Linked DNA regions of Homo sapiens. The protein of the gene in region 2 purifies or fractionates together with the protein of the main gene of each other region. This does not show direct contact. Each region holds a gene or a part of one and is shown on either strand. Other genes may lie near its edges.

Region 1 (3,263 bases), on a different chromosome or scaffold from region 2:
TCATGAGTTTAGTAGGCTTTACTGAAAATTTGGGAACCTGCTGGGGAGGGACTGCATCATTCCATGCACCATCCATTCTCATGGTATGGCTGCCTTGTCTCTTTCCCCTCCCTACCTGGGCTCCTCAGCCCTGGGAAGTTCCAAATTCTTTTCCATCTATTATCAGAGCAGCTTCTCCACTTCCCAAGCCTTGGTCCCAGACAACACTCAAGCCTACAAGGGGCTCACTTCTATGTTTAATTATCAAAGCATTTTTCTAAATAAAGGCAGTTATTTTGCTGAGATAAATTCTGGTCTTGACTTTTAAAGATAATATAAATTTCTTTATCTCACCACACATATTAGTCAGCTATAGTATCAGCAACATTCTAGATATTTTACACATAATGAAAATTATCTATGAAGCATAATTATGCTTGAGAAATACAAGGCAGCATTCTCCAAATCATTTCAGTATTTCAACATCCAAGGTAAAATAATTACAGGACACTTCGTTAAACTTGTTTTAAAAAAGGTTTATTTGTTACAAAAAGTTAAATACTAAAGCTAAAAACATATAAATTCAGGTCAGGCTATATTAAAATACACACATACCCTTCTTTGCAAAATTATTAAAGGTTGAATTAAACAGATGCTTTAAATAAAATAAAGTACTCTTTGAGGACATTTTTGTCAGATTAACTATAACAGTGTAGTGTAGTTTTTAAAATTGCAGTTGAAAAGTTTAGCTGTCTTGGAAGTCAAATTTATCCAATTGTTCAGACTTCTGTTACTACTTAATATGAAGCCACCATGCTGGCTTGGACAGAATTAATTTCATTCATGTTATGGAGAATTCTATATTACAAATCTGGTCCCCTATAATATGAACAGTGAGCAGTCAGAAATATACAAAGGGTTAAATAGGGTAAAGACTTTGGCCAAGAAAGGAAAGGCCTTAGTTCTACCATAGAGTATCTTCTCTAATTAAAATGACTGGGAAATATATGGAAGCAGAAACCAGCACAAAGCACTACCCATCTAGAAATAATCTTTCAGTTAAAAAACAACTCTCAAAACCAGCACTCATTTCTCTAAGATAGGTTATAAGTATTTTACGATTTCTTGTTATATTAAATTGAGTTAAAGGTACTGACAAGTCAATATGCAAATGGGTTTAAACACTAATTTGATTTCTCTTCTGACTAGCTCTGGAGAGCTGTGACATCTGGATGTTGGTGTCACTCACACAGGTAGGTGGTAGAGAACTTTCATAACAAAACTACACACTCCACACCAACTGGGCACCAGCTTCCAAACCCAACTCCACTTCAGGTCAAACAACCTTAAGGAACTACCTATAGTCTAGTTAAACATTAAATAGTATTTTCAAGAAAATACCTTTTTTTGCTTTGCAACTTAATATTTTTCAATTTCCTAGATTAAAAGTTACTGATTTTGAACTTTAAATGCTGTAATTCATATAGGGGTGCGAATATGCTCATGAAAAACAAAAGGCTATTATTCCATTTTAGAAGTCTTAAATGTGAATGAATTTCTAGAAATCTACCACAGTATCTGTTTTTTACAATGCTAATCTTTGTCAAATGGGATTTGCCAGTGGTTGATTAACTCAAGTGATTAAAATACAAAAGACATAAAATCGATTCCAGTAATCATCAATGATACAGCCTAATTAAAATCAGCCCAATTAAAATATTTCCTGGAATATATCTATAGGGAATTTTTAGTGTTTCACTTTGGTTTTTTTTTTTTTTTTGAGATGGAGTTTCGCTCTTGTCACCCAGGCTGGAGTGCAGTGGTGCGATCTCGGCTCACTGCAACTTCCACCTCCCAGGTTCAAGCGATTTTCCTGCCTCAGCTTCCTGAGTAGCTGGGATTACAGGTGTGCGCCACCACATCTGGCTAATTTTGTATTTTTAGTAGAGACGGGGTTTCACTGTTTTGGCCAGGCTGGTTTCGAACTCATGACCTCAAGTTATCCACTTGCCTCAGCCTCCCAAAATGCTGGGATTACAGGCCTGAGCCACCATGCCTGACCTAATGTTTTACTTTGGCAGTGTTGGTATACATACAAGGGCTAACGGTATGGGGTCCCAATATTATACTATAAAACCATTTAATCAAATTTTTGAAAAGTCGGAAAAACTGTGTGTATTCTAAAGTCACTGGAAATTAAAAGAAAAATATATTCCAGTAGTGACTTACAGATGAAAATGATGCTGACAATAGACAGTAATCTGTTTTTCCATGTCTAGGTTTGTGAGTTTCTGATATAATTATTTCTCTATACATGTGATATGAAAGAAAGAAACTATCAGTCTGTCCTCTATCCCAGTCCATTTTCCCTCTATGTAACAAGTCTTTGACTTACATCCTTTCTTTGAACTTACTGTGTAATATTAGAGCACAAGATTCATGCTACTCTTTATCAAATAATCTTGCAGTCCTTGAAAAGAATTCAAAGAATTTAAGCCACTGACGTCCTAATCTTGGTAAATAACACTAAAAACAAATTCTTGAGCCAACTTCGGTAGCAAATTCTCTACAGAGCATCTTTCTCTGTGAACATCTTTATACATGTGTATTAAAGTTAGGCTGGTTAGTCACTCTTACCAACCTCCTGGTCTTACAGAATGATCAAGAAAGTATTTGTTCATCTATGATAGAGCAAGAACTGTGACTGTTTTAAAGCTAAGACAACACAACACATTTCTCCCTTGCCAGCCAAGGTGGCAGTGGAGGCCCTGGGTGGTCCAGACCTCCCCAAAGGCGGGAATCTTCACTATGTTCTCTTCCCTCCGGTGAGCCTCCTTCTCTTCCCTTTATATCAGTGCCTTTTTCTGCTTTCAGAGAGAAAGGTGTTTGAGCAAGAAAACATAGGATATTTCCCACCACGAAACAGACATAATTTTGAGGGCTCAGCACAAAATGAAATCATGGGGCCCTTCTTCAAACATTATTAAGAATTTCCGCTATAGCAGAGCCTTGAACCAAGTGTGGGGTCCTTCTAAGTGTGGGCCCTGTGCTGCTACACAAGTTACACGCTAAGAAAGCCAGCCCTGCCTAGGTTCCCCGCCTACTCAGATTGCCAAAAGGAGATAAAGTGGCTCAATTGGGTTGTCCAGATGAAAAGCAGGTATTTTTTTTATGATGATTCAAACACTGTCATCAATTGAGAACTAAGTGGCATTTCACTTTCCAAATGGCCGGCAAATTTCTATTCCTAAAATCTCATGTTGGACTGATTGGTTTTCCCCTAG
Region 2 (3,844 bases):
ATGGTCACCACCGCTCCCGTGGTGGCAGGGCTATCGGTGGTGAGATTGAGTTCATACAGGCCTAGGAGCCCAGAAACAAAGACTGTGTTTCAGAATGGTGTGTGGCAAGGAGCCCCACAGCCACCTCTGGGCTGGCATCAACTATTCTATTTCCCAGGTGGAGAAACTGAGGCTCAGGCAGCTCAAGTGACTTGCCCAAGGGTCACTCAGCCAATTCGACATCAAACCTGGGTCCCACTGACTCCAAATCACAGTCTTTTCAGTCTTATTTCCCCTTCCTTCCTTCCCTCCCTCCCTCCCTCCTTCTTCCTTCCCTCCTTCCTCCTTCCCTCCTTCCTTCCTCCTTCCCTGCTTCTCTTTCTTTTCTTCCTTCCTTTCTTTTTCTTTCCTTTCCTTCCTTTCTCTTTTCTTTTCTCTCTCCTTCCTTCCTTCCTCTCTCCCTCCCTCCTCTCTTTTTTCTTTCTTTCTCTTCTTTCTTTTTTTCTCCCTTCCTTCCTTCCTTTTCTTTCTTCTTCCTTCTTTCTTTCTTCCTTTCTTCCTCTCTCTCTCTCTCTCACTCTCTCTCTCTCCCTTTCGTTCTCTGGATCTCACTCTGTAACCCAGACTGGAGTACAATCATCACAGTTCGCTGCAGCCTCCACCTTCTAGGATCAAGAGATCTTCCTGCCTCAGCCTCCCAAATAACTGAAACTATAGGCACACACCACCACACCCAGCTAATTTTTTATTTTTTGTAGAGATGGGGGTCTATGTTGCCCAGGCTGCCCAAATTATATTTTGTTTTTCCTGCCAGCCGGGCAGGGCCTTGGTTAGTGGCTACTCTTCTGGACAGGCCACACAGAGAACATTTCTACCATTCCCCAGAATTCTTTTGGTTTTGTTTTGAGACAAGATCTCCCTCTGTCATCCAGGCTGGGGTGTAGTGGCATGATCATAGCTCACTGCAGCCTCAAACTCCTGGGCTCAAGTGATCCTCCCACCTCAGCCTGCCAAGTAGCTGTGACTTGTAGGTCCAAGTCACCACGCTTGGCTGATTTTTTTCTTTTTTTTTTTTTTTTGTAGAGACAGGATCTCACTATGTTGCCCAGCCTGGTCTCGAACTCCTGGCTTCAACCACTCCTCCTGCCTTAGCCTCCCAAAGTGCTGGGATTACAGGCATGAGCCAGCGTCCTCAACCACATTGTCCAAAGATCTACTGGACAGTGCTGGTCTCATGCCTCTGGATTCCTCCTCTCCTCACTCCTCTCTCTCTGTCAGGGTTAAAGGATCCAGCTGTTGGCCAGGCATCATGGCTCATGCCTGTAACCCCAGCACTTTGGGAGGCCGAGGTAAGCGGATTACTTGAAGTCAGGAGTTCGAGACCAGCCTGGCCAACATGGTGAAACCCTGTCTCCACTAAAAATACAAAAAATTAGCTGGGTGTGGTGGTGCATGACTGTAATCCCAGCTACTCAGGAGGCTGAGGCAGGGGAATCGCTGGAACCCAAGAGGCAGAGATTGCAATGAGCCGACATCGAGCCACTGCATTCCAGCCTGGGCAACAAGAGTGAGACTCCGTCTCAAAAACAAAAGAAAACAAACAATAAAAACACTTCCCTGTACCTCTCACCCCCTCAGCTCTTTCCCGACAGCTGAGTCCACTGTTGTCACAACTCCATGTGGAAATGAAAGTTTCTTTGCCTTTCCTGCTATGCTTCAAACTCGTTTAGAGCAGGGGTCATTTCCATCATCCCTGTGACCAGCACAACGCTTGGCACATAGCAGGTGTTTGGTACTGCTGTTGCCAAGGGGCACCCGGAGAGCAGGTGCAGCAGAGGGACCAGCCCACCTGGCCCTGCCCCAGGAGACTGTTCACCCAGGTGGCACTGACTGAGTCCCTTCCATGGACCCCATCCCTACCGTGTTGGGAGGATCCAGAAATACAGAACAAGCCCCTCCCTGGAGGGACCTCACAGGAGACCTGCTGGGCTTTCAACAAGAAAGGCTGGCCAGGCGTGGTGGCTCACACCTGTAATTCCAGCACTTTGGGAGGCCGAGGCGGGCGGATCACCTGAGGTCAGGAGTTCCAGATCAGCCTGACCAACATGGAGAAACCCCCGTTTCTACTAAAAATACAAAATTAACCAGGTGTGGTGGCATGCGCCTGTAATCACAGCTACTCGGGAGACTGAGGCAGGAGAATTGCTTGAACCCGGAAGGCAGAGGTTGCAGTGAGCCAAGATTGCGCCACTGCACTCCAGCCTGGACGACAAGAGCGAAACTGTCTCAAAAAAATTTAAAAAAAGAAAGGCCAACTATTTGACCTTGTGGTTTTCAACTATTTCAACTATTTTACCTTGTTTTTCTTTCACAAATTTTCATTAGATCCCTTACCCTCTCTCTGCCACTCTATTATGAGGGGGGAGGGGGATGAAAACTGTTGGATAATATTCAACCCCGTTAGCTGCCCACGTCCCACCTGTCCCTCAACAAGTCTCCAATCTGGGTCCTTTTATGGTTCCCAAAATGTGGCAGAAAGGTGGGTGCTGGCCTTCTGGCGATGGGGATGTGGGGACAGTAGATGCACGACCGAGTGGGCACAAGGTCCCCCCACAAGTCCCCCCAGGAACCTGTCAGCTCCAGGTCCATTTTGGGAAATCACTCCTGGAAGAAATAGCAGCCTGGCCTCCTGGGCTCTAAAATTGCATCTCGGTCAGGCACGGTGGCTCATGCCTGTAATTCCAGCACTTTGGGAGGCCGAGGTGGGTGGATCACCTGAGGTCAGGCGTTTGAGACCGGCCTGGCCAACATGGCGAAACCCCGTCTCTACTAACAATACAAAATTAGCCGGGTGTGGTGGCGAACGCCTGTAATCTCAGCTACTCGGGAGGCTGAGGCCGGAGAATTACTTGAACCTGGGAGATGGTGGTTGCCGTGAGCCGAGATTGCGCCACTGCACTCCAGCCTGGGCAAAAAGAGCGAAATTCCATCTCAAATAAATAAATACATAAATCAAATAAAATCATATCTCCCCAAAGCCAGCACCAACAGGGTGGAAAACCCCTCTAGATGAGGCAACATTTTAAAGTAAAAATGCTGCCCATCCCGTGTTCCCTGGGGGCTGGGGGTTGTGGCACGATGACTGACCCTGATACATCCCCATGTCCCTGCCTCGTCCTCCCCTCCCTTAGCAGGTACATGGTCCCCAGACATCTGACGGATGCGTGGGCCACCCTCGTGTGGTTTCCAGGGCAGGGCCAGCCCGGGGAGTAGAAGCAGGAATCGAGGGGGCAAGGGAAGCCCCTTCTAGTGCCCAGGCAACTCTGAGATTATTTTTTTCAGACGCATCTCATTCACTTCAAAGCAACATCACCTGTCCCTGTGGGGGACTCCAGCTCCGACCTTTCCTCAGGCCCACCTCACACGTTCGCTGCTTTGGCCCACATCACGTATTTCCTTTTTTTTCAGAGCCATTTCTTAAATTATAAAGGCATTTGAGGCCGGGCCCAGTCAGCTCACACCTGTAATCACAGCGCTTTGAAGCCAGAGGGTCACTTGAGCCCAGGAGTTTTAGATCAGCCTGAACAACACAGCGACACCCATTCTCTACAAAAAAAAAAATTTAAAAATTAGCCAGGCATGGTAGCGTGCACCTGTTGCCCCAGCTACTTGGAAGGCTGAGGCAGGAGGATCTCTTGAGCCCAGGGGTTTGAAGTTGCAGTGAGCTATGATGGCGCCCCTGCCCTTCAGCCTGGGCAACAAAGTGAGAGACCCTTTCTACAAAAATAAATAAATAAAAATCAAGTCATTTGAGTCAAGATGCCGAGAGCTGGTCACTTCCAAGGGAATGCTGGCATTGAAAAGG

What was found. Proteins that work in one complex are often made in the same cells at the same time.
Region 1: the proteins of TMEM130 (region 2) and RHOBTB3 purify together in Homo sapiens (affinity purification with mass spectrometry; one large-scale study listed by BioGRID and IntAct). This does not show direct contact.

The regions. Positions count from the first base shown.
Region 1 is NC_000005.10:95,793,599-95,796,861, reverse strand, and holds the end of RHOBTB3 (rho-related BTB domain-containing protein 3), read right to left. Parts: 3' UTR 501-3,263; downstream 1-500. UniProt on the Homo sapiens protein: Rab9-regulated ATPase required for endosome to Golgi transport. Involved in transport vesicle docking at the Golgi complex, possibly by participating in release M6PRBP1/TIP47 from vesicles to permit their efficient docking and fusion at the Golgi.
Region 2 is NC_000007.14:98,863,340-98,867,183, forward strand, and holds part of TMEM130 (transmembrane protein 130 isoform b precursor), read right to left. Parts: intron 62-3,844; coding exon 1-61.